2 separate regions of the Homo sapiens genome follow, and region 2 is linked to region 1. The links come from fine-mapping of genetic effects on gene expression. A gene starts in region 1. The other region holds a variant in brackets. All regions are shown on one strand. Distances are between the middles of the regions.

The links.
Region 2: its variant is fine-mapped to the expression of VILL in lymphoblastoid cells (GTEx, PIP above 0.99).

The regions. Positions count from the first base shown.
Region 1 is chr3:37,985,352-37,997,504 of GRCh38, forward strand. It overlaps VILL (villin like), which reads left to right and starts at 5,435. Exons shown (of 20, transcript NM_015873.4): 1 at 5,435-5,478; 2 at 8,236-8,381; 3 at 8,547-8,621; 4 at 8,910-9,115; 5 at 10,388-10,496; 6 at 11,726-11,836; 7 at 12,132-12,153. The coding sequence starts at 8,322. RefSeq lists silencers at 1,635-1,812, 8,448-8,897 and enhancers at 7,447-7,741, 8,607-8,901, 8,933-9,550.
Region 2 is chr3:37,920,062-37,932,214 of GRCh38, forward strand. All of the region lies in intron 1 of CTDSPL (CTD small phosphatase like), which reads left to right. Among named protein-coding and RNA genes, the nearest start is that of MIR26A1, 43 kb to the right of the region's middle. The variant A/G (reference allele first, on the strand shown) is at 6,105.

The DNA of each region.
Region 1 (12,153 bases):
AGCAGCTGGCCAGCCAGAGAGAAGTCACTGCAGCTTCCTCCCCTGGTTCCAGACTCCTAGGCTGTGTCCTTTATTCTGCTCCCCAGCCCTCTCTGTCCCTCTCTCACCTTCTCTGGCATCAACCCTGTACCCCACTGCTTCACACCTTTGCATACAGGCAAACAGATAAAAGGCTGAGAGTTGTGGCAGTGCCTGAGGCTGAGGTATCCTCATGAGTGTCCACTGGTCCCCGAAATAGGTGGGAAGGACACACGGGGCATCAAGAGGGCACTTATTTGGGACTTGGACATGCTGAGATATGCCCTTCCGTGTTTTCTAGTTTGAGCACATATCATCTGTGTGTATTACAGGACCAAGGAATGGGCAGGAAGCCCAGGAGGGTGGGAAGGAGTGGCTGGGAAAAGCCAGCCTGGGAACAGTGGCACATCAGCTGACGAACATTCTGTTGAGCTTATGGATAAGGAGTGCATTGAGGGCTTGTGGCCGAGTTGTGGAGTAACCTGGATGCTTGCACGATAAATCTCCTGTGTCAGGGCTGGCTGTGGGTCAGCAGACTGTTCAAGGCCCAGAGCCATCAACTGGCATGGCCACCAGCCTGACCTCTGAGAACAGAGGCCATCGGGAGGAGGACATGGCCCCAGAGCTTTCCACCTCAAACCTCCATTACAGCTCCCTCTCCTGGTGCAGTGATTCTCAGCTCTGGCTGAAGCTGTACCCTAGAATTACCTGAGGGGTCTCAAACATACATCCCTCAAGTCCACCACAGACCATTTCCAATCTCTGCATATGGGGACCTGCGTCATGTTTTTAAGTGCCAAGATGACTGGAAAGGGCAGCCAGGGCTGAGACCCCCTGCTCTGACTGGCTACAGAGGAAAGGCAAGTCCTCCGAAACTGTTCCAGGCCTGATGCCCAGGTGTGGCAAAGGAGCTGTGGCCAGAGCTTTGGGGAAAATGACGTGTTGCTTTACCTGAAAGATCAGCCATATACATGTTCATTGCTAAAAAGTTGGAAAATCCAGAAAAGTACAGAGAAAAGCCCACCTGGGCACTGGGAGCCTTTCCCAAGGCAGGGGTGAGGAGGGAGGCCTGGTGAGACCCCTGCCTGGCTGACAGCACCTGCTTTCACACAGGTGGGGAGCAGAGTGGAGCCCCCCACTACACATTGGAAGGATCACACTGCCCACTAGGCACGGACCCCAGCCTTGCACCACCACCCTTCCAACAGGCCAGGGCTTTCCTGACCCAAGCTGGGTCCTAATGGGTGGGCGTGCTGCTGGGCAGGACCACAGTGGGCAAGGCAGTGACACCTCTTTGCAGGGGCCCAGGGTTGGTGTTTGGTCTGTCCTCTCACCCAGCTGTTCCCGTGGTGTCCTCGGGAGGAGTCACTTCCAGCCTATGCAAGCTCCAGTGACCATTGCCACAGCTCCTTCCACATCCTGCAGCCCAGGGCGGGACCACCAGATGTGGGGACACATGCGGGCCCATGGCTGCTCCCCTCCAGCGCAAGGAGCCAGGGCATCTCCAGGAGTGGGCTCCAGGACCTGAGTCAACAGTTCTCACTCCCCATCCCTGTCTGCCCTCAGAGAGGGACGCTCCTCACAGAGCCCGGACTCCACCACGAGAGGCAACATTCTGCACCTGCCTGGGAAAGACTGGAGAAGGCCTGGGGGATGAAGCCTGGGATAGGATGCCTGAGCCCAGAGAAACTGGGGCGGAGCCTGGACTTATCTTGGGGCCACTCCTTCACCTGGGTCAATATTGACATGGAGCGGGCTGGGCCTTGGAGATAAGCCAGGCAGGAACAAAGTAGGCCCCAAGCCCTGGAAACTTGATGAGTGAGGGGGTGGTAGATGAAGGGAGGCTGGGGCAGGAAGAGGGCAGGGCTTTGCTAGCAAGGCAAACTCTGCCCAGGGCCCTTTTGACTCCTGGCAGGCCCCCTTGAAGAGGGGTGGAGGTGGGGATGGGGATGGGGTGGTGGGACCCCTTTCCTGCTAGGGGGAGGAGGGAGGGGAAGGCTAGGCATCCCACCCTCCCATTCTTGCAGCACCCAGCTGCCTGTGAGCCTGCCCTGGGCCTCAGTTTCCCCTCTGTGTGCCTGGGGTGTGACAGCCATGAGCCGGAGGCTGTCCAGGCCAGACTCAAGGCAGTGCTGCTCATCTTGGCCCCAGGCCAGGCTCTAAGGCCAGACTGCCATCTATCCTGGGCCTGGGATCACAGGTTACAGAGTAGGTGGTTCTGGACAGGGCAGTTCTCTCCAGGTGACATCTTCTGGTTTGCAGAGACCCAGACAATTCCGAGGGTTGGGGCCTTGGAGAAGTTCTCATGCCCCCCACTAAGCTGCTGACACTGGATTGTGCCAGCTGGGGTATCTGGCCCACAACCAAAGTGGAAAGGGGTCACCCCCTCAGCTTCTCAGAGAAGGAGGACTGAGCCCAGTAAAGGGTCCAGATACACACACACACACACACACTGGGTCAGGCGCAGGCCACAGAAACATGTCAGCAAACGTTTTATTAAGCAACTGCAGTGCGCCAGGCACCGTTCTAGACACAGGTGGACAACAGCAAGGCCCTGCCCACAGTGACTCACAGTCCAGCTGGGACACAGACACTAACCAAAGATCCCACTTAGCAAAGAGACCAGCTTCTTGGAGCACCACGATGAGGAAAGTGGTGATGTCTGAGGAGGGAGACTGCTGTGGCTAAGGAGGGCGGGAAGGGCCCTCTGTGGGGCTGCCATTTTGGCTGGGACCTAAATGCAGTAAAGGAGCAGCTACGGGAATATAGAGAGTGGGGCTTCCAGGCAGAGAAGCCTGCAGTGCAAAGGTCTGCAGACAACGACCTGGGCGTCTTCAAGGGACACAAGGAATCATATTGCCAGAACACAGTAAGCCATGGGGAGAGTGATGGGAGAGGCAGCCGGGAACGGCCATTGAGAGTTTCATCCCAGTTTTAGTGGAAGCCACTGGAAGGTTTGGGGAGGGGGGTGATGTGAGCGGGTTTATGGTTAAATTCTGAGGTTGAATTTTCCCTCTAGTTAGTCAAAATCATAGAAAATAGAATGGTGGTTGCAAGGGGCTGGGGGCAATGGGGAGTCTATGTTTAATGGGTGCAGAGTTGCAGAGTTTCCGTTTTGTAAGATGAAAGAGTTCTGGAAATGGTGGCAGTGGTTGCACAACAATATGAGTGTCCTTAACACCACAGAACCGTATACTTAAAAGTGGATACAGGCCGGGCGTGGTGGCTTACGCCTGTAATCCCAACACTTTGGGAGGCTGAGGCCGGTGGATCGCTGGAGGTCAGGAGTTCGCAACCAGCCTGACCAACATAGTGAAACCCCGTCTCTACCAAAAATACAAAATTAGCCGGGTGTGGTGGTGCATGCCTGTAATCCCAGCTACTCAGGGGACTGAGGCAGGAGAATCACTTGAACCCGGGAGGCGGAGGCTGCAGTGAGCCAAGATCATGCCATTGCACTCCAGCCTCGGCAACAAGAGCAAAACTCTGTCTCAAATAAATACATAAATAAAAAGGGGATACAATGGTAAATTTTAAGTATATTTTACTACAATTTTTTAAATCTTGTGAAAAAAAGATTTTTTATATTTTACCACAATTTTTTTAAATCTTAGGAAAAAAGATCCCTCTGGCTACTGTGGTAGGATGGTCGTAGCGGCCAGGCAGACCCAGAGACACAGAGGGAGGCTGGCTCCGGAGCAGGCAGGAGGCGTGAGAGGGAGGGCCAGGCCCAGGATCCACCATGAACCAGCTGCCGACGGGCCAGTGGCTTGCGGGAGAGAGAAATCAGGGCAACTCCAGGTTTGGGGCCTAAGCACCCTCTGGATGTTCACACTGAACGTGTTCCTGGGGCTCAGAGAGGGTAGATCTGGGAGGGGCCTGAGGCGATGTTAAATGTGAGACCAAACGTGCTGGGAGAGATGTGACAGACGGAAGATGGAGACTTAGGCCGGGGCAAGGTTCGGGGGAGTTGGGTCAGGGAGACACTGGCGTTTCCATGCTATTTGCAGCCTTCAGACTGGAACTGGGAAGGAAACTGGAAAACAAACAGGAGTGAAGGCCCAAGCTCTGCTCCTGCTGCCATTTAGAGGCCTGAAGGAGACAGGTGGAGTGAGAGGGGAAGGAACAATGGTGACTGAACTGACTGCCGCTTGGTTGACAGCGGGCATTGGTGACTTAGGAAAGAGCCATTGCCAGGGAATTCAAGAACAAACAGAGCGGGTGGGCTGAGGGGAGATGGGGGAAGAGTCGGTGGGAAGAAGTGAGGACACAGAGTCTTCCTGGGCACAGAGACAAAAAGGGACAGGGAAACGGGTATGCACAGGTACAGTGGACACACTGCCACTGTCACAGACAGGGTCCCTGTCCCAAGTGGGGATCAGACAGACATGCCAGGATACAGGCACACACATGAGGTCGGACAGGCAATGGCACACATGGGGACGAGCCAAATGCCTGTGACACAGGCATCCCTTCACACACAGGGACCCTGCATTGTGTCTGTTAAACACAGTCACACACTAGCTGTAGGTCTTGCTGGACACAGACTGCCCCCGAGTCCCCAAGTCCCCAGACCCCTGTAACAGAGACCTTTGTGGGGTGAAGACTGAACACAGGGAGAGGGTCTTGGGCAGTGGGCAGGCTTTAGCAGCGTGGCTTTGATGGGATGGCCCACGCTGGCTGGGCCTTGGCTGGGACTGAGGCCCTAAGCCGCCAAGAGGAGGTTGTGCCCCTGGAGTTTCTGGAAGGCTCTGTTTGCAGCCCCTCCACCCCACAGTGAGAGAGAGAGAGTGGCAGTGGAGTGGCAGCTGAGGTGAGGGAGAGGTGTCTTCGCTGCAAGAGCTGGACTGGCCTCTCCCATGATGGGTATCAGGGTTCCCTGAGGAGGGCTGTGCCAGGCAGTGAGCTCACATTTGGGTAGGGACAGCAGAAATATCTAGAGGGAGCCCTGACCACCTTCCCCTCCTGAAGTGAGCTGGGTCTCACAGAGCCTGACCCCACAGCCCCCAGCCTTGGTCCTACTTCCTCCTAAAGTTTGCTGGAGTGGCCTGGCCCTCTTGGTCCAGGCGGAGCCCACCACTCCGGGTGAGGGATCAGGGGCCCATCTAGTACTCCAGAGAAGGAAATCCCAGTATCTTCCACACCCCACCTCTTAGCCCAGTCCAGGCCTCCATCCCCTGCTCTCTCTGGCCACTGGTACCCAGGCAGTGAGACCTGGGAGACTTAACCATAGCCCTGGGGAGGGCGCTGGTCCCGACGGCTTGCTCGATATTTGTTGACTGGCTGACTAAGTGAATGCCTAGCCCGCTGAGCACTGTGTGGTGGGGTGTGTCCTGCAGGGCAGGAGCTAGGATTGAGTTACAGTGGTGGGGACCAGGAGTAGGGAGGCAGAGACTGGCCCCGTGCCAGGCCTAGCACTGCCCACAGGCAGGGCGAAGGCGCGGGAGCAGTTTCCAGCAGGTAGGCCTGGGCAGAGAGTTGGGGGGCGGGGGTTTCCAGGGAACCAGTGGGGCAGAGTGGGCTATTCAAGTCAAGGGCATAGAGCATAGGGTCCCAGGGCTCAGGGCCACAGAGCCTCCGCGGCAGAATTGGGAGGCGGCAGCAGCCCAGCAGGTGAAAACACTGATGGGGCAGGGCAGCTGTGGCCGGCAGCCCAAGGGGAAGAAAGTGGCAGATTTTGTAGATGGGCAGGGAAGTCCGTGGCCCACAAATTCAGTGTGCCTGCCCCCAACCCTGGCCCCATCCTCCTTTCCCCTCACTCTAGAGGGCGGCACCACTCCCTGCTCCATGGAAACTGAGCAAGGTAATCTCGGGCTCCCTTCAAAGGTACCCACAAAAGAAGGAAGGGCTCCTGTAGGGAGAGAAAGAGGCACTGGAGGAGGGAGAAAGCGAGGAGAGAGGAGGCACCCAGGGACACGAGGGGCAGGGGGAGAGAAGAGGGGGTGTGTGAAGCGGGTAGGGAGTGCCCCGGGAAAGAGAGGGGAGCCTGGGGAAGAGAAGGAAAGACCTGGGGAGGAGGGTGGGGAGGGAGAGAGGGAGGGGTGTAGGGGAAGACAGGGAACCAGGAAAGGAGGAGGTGCCTGGGGAGGAAAAATGGGAGAAAAAGGGAAGGATCCCAGGGGAGAGGGGAAATCAGAGGGGAGAAAGAAGAACCAGGGGGAGGCAGGGGCACCCAGTGGGGACAGAGGGAAACCCTGGAAAAGCGGAGGCGTGGGGCATGGGGAGAGAAAGGGAAACCAGGGAAGGAATTGGGCATCCGGAAGAGAAAGGGGCCCTGAGTGGAGGAAGTGCACCCCCAGGGAAGAGAAGGAGGGCTTCTAGGAGAAGGGAGAGGACCAGGGATAGGAGGGTTCCCACTTGGGAAGGTGGTGAAAGGGAGTTCCCCAGAGGAAAGAGGGCAGGAGGGTTTGGGAGGCTGGAGGGGGCACTGTGGGGGGTTCCCCTGAGGAAAGAGGGCAGGAGGGCTTGGGAGGCTGGAGGTGGCACTGTGGGGAGGGAGGAGGCCCCCAATCTTTGAGCACCCATTCCTCCCTGGAGTCCAGGTGAAAGAGAATGAACACAGGTGCCATGCGAGTGCGACCTCAGCCCTGGCAGCTGAGGGCTTGGCTCTACGGGCTGGGGCTGGATATCAGACGGGCTCCCGGACCCCTGGGGGCGATGCTGCCTCTCCCAGTGACACCAGCCGAGTCCCAACTTTTTGGCTGCCAGTTTGACTTTCCAGTCCCCCATGTGCCCTGGTTGACACTGTTCTGAGGCCATCCAGTAGTCTTTCTGGCACTCTGTCACCATGTTGTACTCTTCCATGAGCTACAGCTCACAGTTTCTGTCTGCACCTCTGGTCACTGCCTGCCTGGGCCTCTGGTAACTGTCACTGGTCACTATTTCTGCCTATTACTCAGTGTCCTTCTACGGGGCCACCACTGGTGGACATCCTGCTTGTCACCCAATGTCCTCACGTTTTCTGTTGCTTGAGATCACCTTTTCATGGCCACTATGTCTGCCTGTCACTCATGTCATTGTCACACCAACAGGCCATCAACTGTGGCAACAGTTCTTGGGGCAATTAGGGTGCACGGACGGCTCCCTTCTCTATTCATTTTCACTCAGTCCAGTCGCAGGGCAGCACACTTCACTCATTCAACAAGTACTTACTGAGTACCTGCTGGGGGCCGGGCAGCTGGGATCCCACAGTAAACAACAAGACAAACCCCTGCCTTCAGGAATCTGCTGCTCTGGTGAGGGAGACCATAGCCAACAACCATCCTATGGTTTCCATAGGGTGTCGGGAGGAGCTGTGAGCTGTGACGGACCCAGCTCTAACCCCCTAGAAGGACAGCCCACTCTGCCCCTGCTCCCCTGCCCCACAGCCTCCTCCGCTCCCACATTTCTTTGGCTACATGTTGGGTGTTGCCACAGTGTACTGTGAACTCACCAGGGCCAAACCAGGGGCCCTGACAAAGGTGTAAGGAATGTGAGCCACTCTATGACACCTATTGTGCCACACCTGATTCTGTAACTCTGTCCCCTCACCTTGTTCTGCCTGGAGCCAAGGGTGTTCCTGCTATTGATAAGACACAGTGGGAGTGGAGGGGGAGGAGGGAAGGACTAACACACCAGGGTCACCCTGAGTGAGAGATTCAGAAAGAAGTGACTTTTGGACCAAACCTCACACACAGGTTTCTGAAGGAGTGGTGCAGGGAAGCCTCAGGTAATTGAATATGAAGTGCCAAGACATAACAAAATCGACAGAAGTGAGGGTCCCTTCCTTCCCCCAGGTACTTCTCATTCCATGTCACTGTCATTCACTGCCCTCTCATTCTCTCCCTCTCTGCACGCGCAGAACCACAGAGCACAGACTCGAGCAAGCTAAATCGCTATTTGCAGAGCCTGTGGCTGTTTGCAGAGCCTGTGTTTATACAGAGTTCAGCTCTGTTTCAAGAATTTGTCAGCTGAAGCGGGAAGATCACTTGAACCCAGAAGGTGGAGGTTGCAGTGAAGTGTGTTCGAATCATGCACTGCAGGCTAGGGTGGCAGAGCAAGACCCTGTCTCGAAAAAACTGGAAAAAAAAATTGTCAAGTGTTTATGCCTAATCTGCCCAACCCACTCATATCAGCTGAGCCTGTCACTTGCTGCAGAATCTGAGTCTTCATAGTCTGTGTGCTGACATTTGTGTGTTTACAGAGCCCTCCTAATAAAAGTCATGTTCTATAATGAAGTTGTACAGGTAGCCAGGTGTCGGTCTCCAGCCTGAGAACTCTGGCTGTTGTTCCTTGTGTCGTCCCATATTCCTGCCTGGCCTGCGATGGACATCAGCAAGGGCCTCCCAGGCATGCAGGGAGGCCTCCACATATGGATCTCTGAGGTGAGAGGCACGACCAAATAGGAGAGTTGGTGACATGGAAGAGCGTGGGGTTTTCCACACTAGGCTTCTCCCGCCCCCAACTCAGAGCGTCCTCTTCCACCCCACCCCAGCGGGTGTCATGGGTAGAGGCCTCCTGAGTTGTTACAGGGAACTCTCCTCTCCCAGAACCGGAAGATGGTGCCGGTACCCGAGGGGGCTTACGGGAACTTTTTTGAGGAACACTGCTATGTCATCCTCCACGTGAGTCGCTTGGGGAAGTCTGCCTGAGAGGGGTGGCATGGCCCGGCACTGGGGAGACTGAGGCACAGGCATAAACTCTGCCCTGGGAAGCGGCAAGTTGAGAGCCGGAGAATCACATCCCACAAGGGGGCGGTTACCGTTGAGGCTTCTTAGTCCTTCCCTCCCACTTCCTGATCTCCGCGGAAGCCCCTGCCTAGCGTCTCCCCATGGCCCTTGGTACATCCTCCCCTTCTCCACCCGCACCTCCGTCTTCCCCGCAACACATATACACAAACACCCGGACCCTAGGTCCCCCAGAGCCCGAAGGCCACGCAGGGGGCGTCCAGCGACCTGCACTACTGGGTCGGGAAGCAGGCGGGTGCGGAAGCGCAGGGCGCTGCGGAGGCCTTCCAGCAGCGCCTACAGGACGAGCTGGGGGGCCAGACCGTGCTGCACCGCGAGGCGCAGGGCCACGAGTCCGACTGCTTCTGCAGCTACTTCCGCCCGGGAATCATGTGAGTGCGGGGGCGACCGGGGCAGGAGGGAGCCGTGGAGGCGGTGCCTTGGCTGGGGCAGTCTTGGGATGGCCATCGTCCACATCCCTGAATGGGGCAAGCCGGGAGGGGTTGGGTAACACCTTTATTGAGATACAACTCATACGCCATACGATTCACCCATTTAAAGTACATATACATGTCAGTGATTTTTAACAGTTGTGTGCAACCATCACCACAATTTTAGAACATTTTCATCACCCTAAAAAGAAGCCCCATACCCCTTTGCCACCACTCCCCATTTCCCTCCAACACCCCCATCCCCTGCCCTAGGCAACCACTCATCTGCTTTGTCTATACATTTGCCTCTTCCGGGCATGTCATAGAAATAGAATCATTCAACAAATGGTCTTCCCTGACGGGATCTTTTTGTTTTAACACACTGTTTTCATGGTTTATCCATGTTGTAGCATGTGTTATTACTTCTTTTTATTACCAAGTAATATTGCATTTTATGAATATACTACATTTTATTTATCCATTCATCACTTAATAGACATTTGAGTTGTTTCCACTTTTTGGCTGCTATGAATCTGTTTTTATGAACATTTGTATACAAGTTTTTGTGTGGACAAATGTTTTCATTTCCCTTGGTATATACCTAGGAGCAGACACCAATGTTGTTTTGAGTTTGCTTTTATGTTACTGTGCTGGTAGGAATATATCTTTCGCTGTAAATTGCTTCACAGGTGTTTTAAATTAACACTAGCAATATATTTGGAAATATAGGAAATTGCTATTTGATCATTTCCATTTCATACAGTTGAACCTATATATGCATATAGCATATACATGAACACATGCACACAAACATATGCGCAGATGCAGAAACACACACCACCCTCATGTATGTCCACCTATAGATGGACATGTGTGAATATCCATGTTCACCTACACACATATATGCTGTTGCCCACCTTCATGCACTCACCATCTAGACTTACAGGGATAAACAAATACACAGTGTGCCCCCAAATGTATGTACATGTACACATATATGCATGTGTCCACATGACTACGCATGGAAGTGCACTACACATGGAAATGAATGCACACTCATGCCCTATGTGTGCACCCATGTACTTATACATACATGTGTTCACACAGACTCCAGTGCATGTATGAAGCAGGCACATACGTGCACGTGCTCACATCTGCAGTCATTCATGCACATGGCAGTCTGTGTTCTTATATACACAGAATGTATATACCCTCCTGCTATTCCCACCTCAGCTACAGGAAGGGAGGCCTAGCATCTGACCTCAAGCATGTGGAGACCAACTTGTTCAACATCCAGCGACTGCTGCACATCAAAGGGAGGAAGCACGTGTCTGCCACTGAGGTGAGGCTGCCAGGGGAGCCTCTTGACCTCTGAACTCGGCTCAGACTGGGTGTACTGAGGTATAAGGAGGTTGGAAATTGGCTGGGGTTGTGGGGAACAAGGAGCTGTCAGCATTCCCAGATGGTCTTGAATGAGGAGAACAGAGAGGACACCAGGCTTCTAGCCCCACTTCTGCCACTGCTCCCCGGACCTTTTGTTTATGCGTCTATCTCAGGGACATATTGAGAACATGGGCACAGCTACTTGGGAGGCTGAGGCAGGAGGATCGCCTGAGCCCAGGAGTGATTCATGATGACACCACTGTACTCCAGCAGCTTGGGTGACAGAGAAAGACCCTGTCTCTGAAACAAAAAAAGAACTTGGGCAGATGGGGCAGATGATATGGCGCCTGTGAATGGTCCTTGTTAGCAGCACAGTGAGAGGTGGTGCATAACCTCGCACTCTCTCACACACATTGTCATTGTCACCTATATGCACACACACTGTCTCCCACTGTTATCCCCGGGTGCTCCTCTGGTCCATAGAGTGCCCTTGTGCAAATCAGAACAGTGCCCCTTTCTTCCATCTGTCAGGAAATTACAGGAAAATACTGGTTTTGTTAGAACAAAACATTTTGCTGCCATCTGGCCAGAATTTGGTGTAATGAACATTCAGGTGTACAACGTCTACAGTGTGAATGGTAACCCTTGAGGTATGCAAGTGAGTCTGCATAGGCAGCCTGTGACACAGAGACAATCCCACATAGGCTCTGCATGTCACCCACAGACCCAGTGACCATACATCTCTGGTCATTCAGGGACACCATGAAGCCCCATGTTTCTCCTATTATCCTGGCATAATTATCTAAAGTACTCCCTTTTACTCTCAAAAGTGTGTCCGTTTGGAGACTATCTTCATCCATAGGTATTCACTGTCACCATAAGCACACTTCTTCACATGTGATGTCCCCATATACATACATGTGTATATGCACACACACAAAAGATAAACAGATACACCCCACCTGTATACATGTGTACATGTATACATGTACAGCAACAGACATGCACTGAGTGAGAAGTGTCATAAGTCATGTACACCCTGTGGAATGCAGCATTATCTACAGTCACACATGCCTACGTACACCCAGTTTGCATACAGCTTCATGCACACGTGACACATCCCAGCTATGCTCCCCTCTAGCGGATGCTGGTGGTATGACACTCTGTCTCTCTCCCTGGCTCTGGCAGGTGGAGCTCTCCTGGAACAGCTTTAATAAGGGTGACATCTTCCTGCTGGACCTAGGCAAGATGATGATTCAGTGGAATGGGCCCAAGACCAGCATTTCTGAGAAGGCTCGGGTCAGTGTCTGCCCAAGGAACTGGGGAGTACGGGGCTTGGGCGGGGAATGATCCTCCAGTTGACCATCCTCCGGCCACCCAAAGAGTTGGGCTTGGCTCTGCTACAACCCAAGAAACGCCTATGAGTTACAAGCTGAGTTCAGACCCTGCATTGTTGGTGTCCCCCTGGATGCCAGGATGAGGGGACATCAGCCCTTCTCCCCATCAGCCTCTGGGAGCTGAGCAGTGACAGGAGAAGTCTCTGCTGTGAGAGGGCACACTGGTGACACCCTGACTCCCAGGTCCTCTCCCGCAGGGGCTGGCTTTGACCTACAGCC
Region 2 (12,153 bases), 65 kb before region 1:
CAGTTCTAGAGGGTGGAAATAAAAAAAAAACAGTCTCAATGGGTTAAAGTCAAGATATTGTCAGGACTGGTTCCTTCTGGAGGCTCTGAAATTGTTCAGAGGAACAATTGCTAGATGAAGGCAGGGATTCACGATCTCCACTTGAAGCCTTTGAGGATATGCTCAGATACTTTGTCTTGAGGGCAGAACCAGCCTGGACTGTTGCCGGAGGTGAGATCCCCAGACCTTCCTTTCAGCAGATGGAATGTGCCCTGGTGTGCACCAGGTCTTGGTGAGACTGAGCACTGTTGGGGCAGCCTCTCCAGAGTTGACTTGTCTGGTGCTGGAAGCAGGAATGTGAGCTGCTGCGACTGCATTAGGAGGAAACAGTTCTCCTCCTTTTAATTGGCAGCTTTGGTAGTTCTGTAGCTTTACTGCACCACAGATCAGCTGTGTTTCCCCAGGCCACCATCTGCCCTGATGGTTTAACATCAGGGTGGGAGGCTGCAGAGGCCCTGCCAGGTGCCCTAAGGGAGGCATGTGAGAGTTTCCTGCTCTTCCTCACTTGAGCCTACAGATGGTAAAGAGCCAGGCACTAATGATATTTTCAGTCTGCGAACATCCTTCTAAAAAGTAGGATTTTCAAAAAGTGACCTTTTGTTAGGGAAGAACAGTGTCTGGCTTAAGCGCATACTTCCACCTTCACCCATAGTAGTGCTTTCAGTAGCTCTAGGGGATGTAATGTGGATGCATTTCACTTGCTGTATAGCATGAGGCAAATGGCTTGGTCTGATTTGCTCACTCAGGTCTAAGAGGATCTAATAATTCATCCCAGTTCTGGTTCTTCCCTGCTCTCAAACCACCTGTGAGACCTGCTTCCCCTGTACTCCTCAGCCCTATGGGCCAGGGTCCAGCCCATCCCAAGCCCTTTCTATCACCTGTAGGTTTGAACCCGGGTCTTTTGGGCCTCTGTGAGCCTCAATAGGTCAGCGCATTCATGACAAGGGAGAGAAAGAGGGGAGTCCAGAGAGGAAGAGCAGAGAAACAGTCCTCCCCTGCCTCTGCCCATGACAGTTTTCCTAGTACTTTCTTATGCATCGTTTTATCTTTTCCTCACATCTTCTGGCAGCGGGCAGCACAGGGCCATTTTCCCCCCAGGTAACAGAGTCTAGCTTCTGACTGGCTAAATGACTTGCCAGAGGAAAAGGATGTTGGAGACTGGATGGTGTCCCAGATCTTTCCACTGCCCCATCTAAAGAGCAGGCCTTGGCTGTGCCTGGCTGGCCTTCACAGCAGCGGCCCCTGTCTCCTCCACAGTCAGGACAAGGAGCCAAAGGATGTAAGGGACAAGTGTCTGCTCTGCCAGACTTGTTCGACCCATGTCATAGCCATCTTCAACTTTAGAGACTGTATTGCAGGTCGTCGGAGGTGTATCTGTCTCCTCCCCCTAGTTTGAGAGTTCCCTGAGGACAGGAACAGTTCCTTTTTCCTTATGTAACTGTTTTTTTCTCCCAGTACCTAGTTCAGCACCTGGAAGATGGTCGATATAAGAAACAACCCTAACTACCACACACACACACACACACACACACACACACACACACTCACACAAACACAAACAGTATATGCAGCTTTTGTGCTGATATTGAACTATTATGACTCTTTGAGGTCTATGAGGCTTCATCCCTGTGGTAAGGGGCCAGACCACCTGTAAGGAAGTGGTGTTCCCACTGCTGGTCATCCTGGGGCAAGGCTGGAGAACTGTTTCTTCTCTTGGTTCCTGTTGTCTTGGGCCTTGCCTCTGCAGAATAAGATGCACTTGAAGACTTTTTCCCAGGTCATGGGGAATGAAGACTTCTCCTTGCAGGGAGGAGGAATAACTGGGACAGCCCCCAAAGAGTACCCACATAGGGCCAGGCGCGGTGGCTCACGCCTCTCATCCCAGCACTTTGGGAGGCCGAGGCAGACAGATCACGAGGTCAGGAGTTCGAGACCAGCCTGGCCAACATGGTGAAACCCCATCTCTACTAAAAATACAAAAAGTAGCCAGGCATGGTAGTGCTGCATGCCTATAATCCCAGCTACTCAGGAGGCTGAGGCAGGAGAATCACTTGAACCTGGGAGGTGGAGGTTGCAGTGAGCCGAGATCACACCATTGCACTCCAGCCTGGGCAACAGAGCAAGACTCTGTCTCAAGGAAAAAAAAAAAGAGTACCCACACAGAGGAGCCTGAGGGCAGCCACCTCTAGCAGCCCCTATAAGTTACTCTCTGAGTTGGACTCCTGAATGCTGTCCTCAAACAGAAGGCTTGCAGTGCTGTGGAGTATGAAGGCAGGGCCTGTCCCAAGACTGAGCCTGTGTGACCTGGGAAGCAGTACGCTGAGGCCCCCAATTGAGGGACAGGAGTGACCAGTAAGATTCCTAATGGGAAGATAGATGTCAGGACAACAATTGGGCCAGGATCTCCTATTGCTCCACTCCATGGGGAGATTCTCCCTTCTCAGCTCAGAGTGTCTTTTTATTAAAGCAGCTAGCAGGCTTCCTTACATTAGATGCCAGATAAGTCTTTACTAAACAGACCACCATTCTTTTTCCTTGCAAATGTGGCTCTGTTGAGGTATGGATTAAATCAGCCCTTATGGGCTAGCATGGGCACTTTGTCACTCCTTATTACATGATATTTGTGGGAAATAGCATTCCAGGTTCCAAACAAGGGATTGGCAAGGGAAGCTTGGGAACACAGCTGAGTCACCAACAAGGGCCTTGCCACTCCTGGTCTGAAGCACTAAGTGTGTTTCTGTGTGAGGGCTACCTTCAAGGCTGCAGTCCAGCACAGGCTCAGAGCCCACAGGCTTGGCATTCTGGCCTGTGGATGTTTGACAAGCAGGGCAGTGTTTCCACTGGGGACAGTAAGGGGTGAGTTCACCAAGCTTCCTTCACTACCCTGTGTTACCTTATCTTGTGTAACATGACAAGAACCCAGTCTGAGCCATGTAGAGCTACCGAGGGGCTGTAAGCAGGAAGGGGGCCTAACCACATCTGCATTTCAGAAAAGATCGTTCTAGGGGAGGAGAAACCTGTAATCAGACTGTTGCAAAGGTTCTGTGGAGGGAGGGACAGTGGCGTGGGACAGGATGACTGCTGAGCATATGGGGAGAAGAGCCTGGGCCTGGCAGCTGGCTGGCTGTAGGAGATGCAGGAGGAAAAGCTGAGGGTGGTATCCACATTTCTGGTGTTCTTGGAGTGACATTGAAGTAGTCAGCTGGAGAGAGGAGCCTTGAGCTCTTCTTTTGGGAAACCCTGAAAATGCTGTGAAGACTTCCACAGAACTGCCATCCCAACTGATAGTTCAAATGCGTTCTTAAAATATCTGATCTTGGCAGAGTGGAACTCTGTGTAGGAAGAATCACATGGTACTTCTTATTCCATGTTCAGTCCCCAGCGTGTGGTGTCTATTTTGAAATATGTGGTTTATGCAATTTTATCAAGAGAGGTTTCTTAGGGTCATTTGTTAATATTTTTCCATTTATAAAGTTATTATATACCCTATAAAATTCCAGGTTAAGGAACAAATAACTTTAGAGCATTTCTTAAACATATCTTATAAAGCCGTATACTGTTGTGGGAATTCAAATTGTACAGCTAAAAACTATAGGCTGTCAGCAATGACATTTTAACGTGCATATTTCCATCTGAATGATTAACTGTCAGTTGATACAAAGAAGCTTTCTAAGTATTCCTTGCTTTTCTCTGTTTTTTTTTTTTAATGAAACAACACACTTATAAACCAATGCAAAATTCACACAGTATTAAATCACTCATTTAGGCTATCAGAGCCATGATAGCAGGAAGGGAACAACACAAACATACAATTGGATGACATCTTCACAATTAATCCCAAAACATCTGTGAGTATGCATGAGAGCTGATGCCTGTTTGAAGCAGAATGTTGCAAGCAGAAACTCTTCTATTTTACTCTTCTCATTAAAACAAAACGAAACAGAGAAGAGTTTCTATGTTTGAAAACTGGGAGTGAGGACAACAGGCCTCTTGCCGTATGGCATTCAACCCGGTCCAAGGTGAGAGTTTCTTCGTCCTAAAACTCTTGAGATAAGAATTCCGTTTATGATGATTCAAACTAAGGCTGTTAACATTATTCGGCCTAAAGAGAGAAGAGTATTGTGTGTCCTGTTTATATGATGAAAATAAATTTTTCTAGGGCTGCCATTTGCTTTTCTCTTCATTATGGTTACTGTCCCACAATTGGAAGACTTTTTTTTTATCCACGTGTACAAGGAAATCGAAGGGTTATGAAGTCCAGAGTTGATATTTGAGAAACTGAAAAACAATGATGTGTGATAAAAATGCCAAAAGCTTTTACTTTTACTGGGAGACTTCCTTGTTTTATAATTGCCAGCTTTTCCAACAATGGTGTACAAGAGGGCACCCTAAGAAATTATCTTTGTGAGGAACATGTAAAATGTCCTGAGGTCCATATTGATCTTCCTTCCTCCACAACGAGAAAATAACAAAAGTAAATATTTGGGGCCACGTTTATTTTGGTAAGATAAGTTCCAGTCTGGTTTCTAAAATTAGGGATTCTGTGGAATGCACGTGGTTTGGGGCATCCTGCCGGAGAACTTTGTCTCAGGGATATGTAGTTTCTTATGTGTTGTTGCTTGCTTGGAAATGTGCATCTAAACCTTCCCTCACGTCTGCTCATCTGTGCAGACCCAGTGCCGATGGTAGGAAAGCTCTACCCAGCTAATTTTGGTAGGCTCTCGCTGTCCTGCCCTCACCAGCATGACCTCTCCTTAGATGCTGCTCTGAGCCTGCTGTCTGTCCTTCATACACCACCAGACAGGTCTTCCAAGAGCACAGCTCTCATCCTGTCCCTGTTTCTCCTCAAAGCATTCACTGACCACCCCCTCCCTCAACTGCTTTCAGGCTAGAGGCCCTTCCCCACTCTGGTCTCACCTAGTGATACATCCTCTGCCACCAGCCAAACTGTCCTCCTTATTGCCTCCTGTAACTTTCCATTTCTCCCTCATAAACATCCTTCCCTGTCCCCTCTGTCCATCCTTCCTTGCTCAGTTGTAGTTGCCCCCATCCTCTCTCCCCACAACAGAAGTCTGCCCTGCCCAGGGAAGCCTTGTTTGACCCCTCTGAATATTTGCCTGCACCATCCATCACTGTCTCTTTCCCTCAATGTCTAGTGCAAAGGAGGTACTCAGGAGACATTTCTGTGTAGCCCTCCCTTTTGGCATCAGGTTTCCCCCTTCTAGAAGCTGTTCTTTTCCTGTAAAAGGCATACCCTCCAAGCATTGGTTCCTGGGCTTGTCTTTCTCCTCTACCCGGACTCATTGAGCTTTCTGTAGAATGTAGCAGTGGCAGCAGCTACCCTTCTCCTCCCGCTGGGGCTTGTTGGAGGCTGTGGGGCCTGCATTCACAGGGCCTTGCCTTCACCTATCATCTTGGGTAGAATAGGAACAAGCAGGGCTGTCTTCCTGGGCTTGCAACGTATGCCCTGCAGAGGCCTCAAACTTGTTTTAATACTCTGCTGTTACCATCCTGACCTTCTTACTTTTTGAACAAAGGCCCTGCATTTTGAACAAAGGGGCTCACAAAGTATATACCCAAACCTGGGAACAGAGCAGATAAGCAGAAGGGATGCTTGTTGGGGTACATGTGGAAGCCAGTGGAGGGTGTGTGACAGAGAATGGGAAAAGGAGGAATGGAAGAGATGCACTAGTTGTGAAGCACTTTTCTCGCACGGGTGACAGTTCTCCAGTACACACAGACACACACACACACACACACACACCACTCTTTAACCTCTTCCCTGCTTTGCTTTGATCCACAATACTTAACACTGTGTGACGTACTCTATATTTTACATGTTTATTTATTGTGTCTCTCTTCCCGCTGGAATCTAAGCTCAATAAGGGCAGGAATTTTTTAAGTTTTGTTCACTTATCTATTCCACAGTAGCTGACATATAGTAAATGCCAAATAAGCAAGTGTTGGATGAATTCACTACCCTTTAGGGGCTGGCATTCCTGCTACATGGGGTGATCTGTGGTAGCTGGGGAGAGGTCTGTGAGGCCATGGGAAAGTCACAGAGG[A/G]GATGGCAGGCCAGCTGACAAAGGGAAATTAAAAGGTACCACACAATTAAGTGGGGCAAATACTAGCAGAGCCCAAGTGAGCAGAGCAGCAGGAGCTAGTCAGAGATCTTCATCAAAGCCATGCCAGGGAACTGAGGGCAACAGCTAAGGTAGATGGTAAGATCGTAGGTTTCCAGCCCACATGAGAAACACCGTTATTTTTTTCATTCCTGCCCCAACCATGGGCCATGGGTCAGTGCTAGCAAATAAATTACTTATTAAGGAATTATTTTTCTTTTTGGCCTAGGTGATGTCAGTCCTTTGAAAAGGATTATTGAGGACTCTTGAGGCATTCTTGGAGGTGATTATTCCTTTATTCAGTTGTGAACCAGTTTTTGGTGTCAGTGGTTTGAGAGCAGACTGTAGATATGGTTACATTTTCATTGCAAAACTAATGTGGAATATTCTGGATGAACTGGCTTACTACTTTAACAAATCATTCTAATTAAACATCATGGGAAGAAGTTTGATACAATTATGGCAGATTTTAGAGGAATTGTATCACTGAATTGTGGCTTTTGTCCATAGATAAGTATAAGAAGCAAATGCATTTATTATCTGGAGGAGGCTTGCAGTGTTCAGTGTTAGGCAATAGTGATAGTGAGCCAGGAGTGAACAAGCTCCTCCACTTGGGTCACTCACAGTCCAGAGCGGGTGGGAAAGATATCCCACAGGACGATGATCATAATGACAGAAGGCAGAAAACTATAAGCTTTGCAGTCCAACAAACCTGAGTTCAAATTCCAGTTCTACTACTTAGTGCATCATTGGGCGAAGTCTGGGTACTTCACTTCTTGGTCACATCTTGGCCAGTAAAATGGGGGTAATGGTACAGGCTGAGTATCCCTAATCCAAAGTCCAATTACTCTAAAATCCAAATCTTTTTGAATGCTGATATGAAGCCACAAGTGGAAAATTCCACACCTGACCTCATGATGGGCATTTGTAACCATTGAAGAATAGAAAAAATAAAAATTAAAAATGGGCAAAGGGCTTGAATAGATATTTCTCCAAAGACATACAGGTGACCAACAGGTATATGAAAAGGTGCTCAAAGATGGTGGGTCAAAGTCAAAACTTTGTTTCATGCACAAAATCATTAAACATATTGTGTAAAATTACCTTCAGGCTATGTGTTTAAGGTATATATGAAATATAAATGAATTTTATGTTTAGATTTGGGTCCTATCCCCCAGATAACTCATTATGTATGTGCAAATATTCCAAAATCCGAAAAAATTTGAACACCAAAACACTTCTGGTCCCAAGCATTTTGGATAAGGGATCTTCAGGGTACCATGTGTGATGAAGATTGCATAAGGTTGGCATGTGAGCCACTGGCATGAGTACAGCAGGCATTCCGTCAGCAGTAATTGTGGCTTCTCCCAAGGCCAGTCTTTTTTTGTTTAATTGTGGTTAAAAGAAAAATATATGTGTGTGTGTGTGTGTGTGTGTGTGTGTGTGTGTGTGTGTGTATGTGTATATATATATATATATATATAAAAAATGAAATCTACCCTCTTAAGTTTTTAAGTGAACAGTACAGTCTTATCTATATTGTACATTGTTGTACAGCAAATCTCTAGAATTTTTTTATTTCATTGACTGAAACTCTAGACTCATTGAACAGTAACTCCTCATTTCCCCCTCCTCCCAGCCCTTGGCAGCCACCATTCTACTTTATGCTTCTGTGAGTTTGCCTGCATTAAATACCTCATGTAAGTGGAATCATACAGTATTTGTTCTGTGACTGGCTTATTTCTCTTTGTATAATATCCTTTATCTATGCTGTGGCACATGTCACAATTTCCTTCCTTTTTAAGGCTGAATAATATTCCTCCATCTATGCTGTGGCACGTGTCAAAATTTATTTCCTTTTTGAGGCTGAATAATATTCCATTGTATGCATGGACCACTTTTTCTTTATCCATTCATCCGTTAATGGACGTTTCAGTTGTTTATTGTAAATAGTGCTGCAGTGAACATGGAGTACAAATAGCTCTTCAGGATTCTGTTTTCAGTTATTTTGCATAAATACCTAGAAGTGGAATTGCTGGATTACATGGTAGTTCTACTTTTAACTTTTTGCAGAAACTCCATACTGTTTTCCACAGCAGCTATACCATTTTACATTTTCACTAACAATGCACAAGCATTTCAGTTCCTCCACATCCTAGGCAAAACTTATTTTTCTTTTTCTGTTTTTGATGGTGGCCAGCCTAATAGGTGTGAAGTGATATCCCATTGTGGTTTTGAATTGCATTTCCCTGATGGTCAGTGATGTCGTGCACCTTCTTATATACCTGTTGACCACTTGTATGTCTTTAGAGAAATATCTATGCCAGTCCTTTGCCCATGTTTTATTTTTTCTGTACTTCAGTGGTTGCAAATGACCGTTTTTTAATCAGGTTATTTGGGTTGTGGTTTGGTTTTTGTTGTCGTTCTGCATTGTAAGGGTTCTTTATATTTTTTTGGATACTCTTTTATTGGATATATTGTTTGCATATACTTTCTCCCATGCTTTAGGTTGCCTTTTCACTGTGCTGTTTCTTTTGCTGCATAGAAGCTATTTAGTTTGATGTAGTGCCACTTGTCTATTTTTGCCTTCATTACCTGTGGTTTTAGTGTCATATCCAAGAAATCATTGCTAAGACCAATGTTATGAAGTTTTTCCCCTGTGTTTTCTTCTGGGCTTTTTATAGTTTCAGGTCTTATGCTGAAGTCTTTAATCCATTTTGAGTTGACTTTTGTGTAGGGCATAAAATAAAGGTCCAACTTCATTCTTTTGCATGTGGATATCATTTTGCCAGCACCATGTCTTGAAAAGACTATCCTTTCCCCATTGTGCAGTCTTGGCATCCTTGTCAAAGATCATTTGACCGTACATGCATAGGTTTATTTCTGCACTCTCTATTCTGTTCCATTGGTCTATGTGTCTGTCTTTATGCCAGTACCATACTATTTTAATTACCATAGCTTTGTAATTTGTTTTGAAGTCAGGAAGTGTGAGGCCTCCAGCTTTGTTGTTCTTTATCATGATTGTTTTGGCTATTAAGGGTCTTTTGTGGCTCCATATGAATTTTAGGATTGTTTTTCCTGTTTCTGCAACAAAAACAAAAGCCGTTTGGATTTTGATAGGGATTGCATTGAATCTGTAGATTGCTTTGGGTAATACAGACATTTTTACAATATTAGGTCTTCCACTCCATGAACACAGATGTCTTTCCATTTATTAGATCTTCTTTAGTTTCTTCCAGCAATGTTTCGTAGTTTTCAGTGTACACATTTTTCACCCCCTTAGTTAAGTTTATTCCTAAGTATTTTATTCTTTTTAATGCTATTGTAAATGAGATTGTTTTCTTAATTTCCTTTTTGGTTTATTCATCGTCAGTGTATAGAAGCAGATCTGTCTTTTGCATGTTGATTTTTGTCTTGCAACTTGGCTGAATTCATTGATTAGTTCTAACAGCTTTTCTGTGGACTCTTTAGGGTTTCTACATATAAGATCATGTCGCTGTGATATTTTTACTTCTTCCTTTCTGATTTGTATGCCTTTTATATCTTTTTCCTGTCTAATTGCCCTGACTAGAATTTCCCATAATGTGTACAGTAGAAATGGCAAGAGTGGCATGGTGGCTCACGCCTGTAATCCCAGCACTTTGGGAGGCTGATGCAGGTGGATCACTTGAGGTCAGGAGTTCAAGACTAGCCTGACCAACATGATGAAACCCTGTCTCAACTAAAAATACAAAAATTAGCTGGGCATGGTGGTGCGTCCTGTAATCCCAGCTATTCAGGAGGCTGAGGCAGGAGAATAGCTTGAACCGGGAAGGTGGAGGTTGCAGTGAGCTGAGATCGCACCACTGCACTCCAGCCTGGGTGACAGAGTGAGACTCCGTCTCAAAAAAAAAGAAAAAAAAAAAAAGAAGAAGGGTATGGTGTTTACCTTCCATGTATTTGTGAATTTTCCAGTTTTCCTTCTGTAGATTTCTAGTTTCATTTCATGGTCAGAAAAGATACTTGGTATGATTTCAGTCTTTTAAAATTTTAATTTTTATTTTAAATTTATTTTTAGATACAGGGTTTCACTCTGTCACCCAGGCTGGAGTGCAGCAGTGTAATCATAGTTCACAGCACCCTCAGCCTCCCAGGCTCAGGCAGTCCTCATGCCTCCAGCCTCCCAACTAGCTGGGACTACAGGAGCACACCACCATGCCCAGCTAATTTTTTCTTTTCCTTTTTCTTTATTATTATGATTATTATTACTACTACTACTACTATTATTATTGAGATGAGGTCTTGCTGTGTTTCCCAGGCTTGGTCTCGAACTCTGGGCCTCAAGCAATCCTCTCACTTCAGCCTCCCAAAAAGTTGGGATTACAGGCATGAGCCACCACACTTAGATAATTAGTCTCTTCCTAAATTCTTAAAGACTTGTATTGTGACTTAACATGTGATCTATCCTGGAGAGTATTTTGCATATTTGAGAAGAATGCATATTCTACTGCTGTTGGATGGAATATTCTGTGTCTCTTAGGTCCATTTGGTCTATAGTGTTATTCAGGTCTTCTGTTTCCTTGTTGACCATTGTTGAAATCTACTATTATTGTGTTGCTGTCTATTTCTCTCTTCATTTCTATCGGTGCTTGCTTCATGTATTTGGGTGCTCTGATGTTATATCTTCCTGGTGAACATATAACTCCTTTTTATCATTATGTAATATCTTTGTTTGTCTCTTGTGACAGCTTTTTGACTTAAAGTCTTTTTGGTCTGATATAAGTATGGCTACTTTTGCTCTCTTTTTTTTCCGTTTACATGGAATATCTTTTTCCATCCTTTCACTTTCAGCCTATGTGTGTCTTTAAATCTAAAGTGAGTCTCTTTTAGTCAGTGTATAATTGGGTCTTGCTTTTCTCCCCCTCTATTCAGCTCCTCTTTGTCTTTTTTTTTTTTTTTCCTTCGAGACAAGGTTTCACTGTGTCATTCAGGCTGGAGTGCAGTGGTGCACTCACAGCTTATTGCAGCCTTGAACTCCTGGGCTCAAGCAATCCTCCCACCTCAGCCTTTCAGATAGCTGGGACTACAGGTGCACTCCACTTCAACTAGCCAACTTTTTTAGTTTTTTTAAAAGATGGGGTCTCACTGTGTTTCCCAGGCTGATCTCAAACTCCTGGCCTCAAGTGAGCCTCTTGCCTCAGCCTCAGCCTCCCAAAGCACTGGGATTATAGATGTGAGCCATCACACCCAGCCCCCTCTGTGTCTTCTCTGTGTCTTTTGATTGGGGAGTTTAATCCATTTGTGCTTAATTATGATAGGAAAGGACTTACTATTGCCATTTTGTTAACTGTTTTCTATTTATCTTACAGTTCTTTTGTTCTTCTTTCCTCTCTTTCTGCCTTCCTTTGTGGTTCATTAATTTTTTGTAGTGACATGCTTTGATTCCTTTCTCATTTTCTTTTATCTCCTATAGGTATTTTCTTTGTGGTTACTATAGTGCTTACATGAAACATTTTGTAGTAATAATAATCAATTTTCAGCTGATAAACAGGGCCAATCTTAATCTTGGAACAGTTTTTAGGTCTAAGCTATAACAATTTTTTTTTTTACTTTTTCATTTTAACTTTTATTTAACTGCTTTAAAAAAGAATTAAACTAGAATTAGTAAATGTGTGTTCCACAAGTTGATAGAACTAAGTTCCAATGGTATGTTTTAGGGCTTGATAAAGTGACTCTAACATTCATTTGTAAGTGTAAAGTGTTAGACTAGCCAAGAAATTTTTGGAAAAAAAAGTAAAAGGGAGACTAGTACTATTAAACATAAAACAATAAATCTACAGTAGCAAAGCTGTGTTTTACTGGCACAAGCAGGAGAATGGAATGGAAGAGAACAGGATAGATTTGAACAGGATAACCAAATCACTGTATGAGGATAAATTGTTCAGTAAATATTTGGATATTTGATTAATCTTTTGGAGGAAAAGGGCAGATTCATACATCCTACTGTATACCA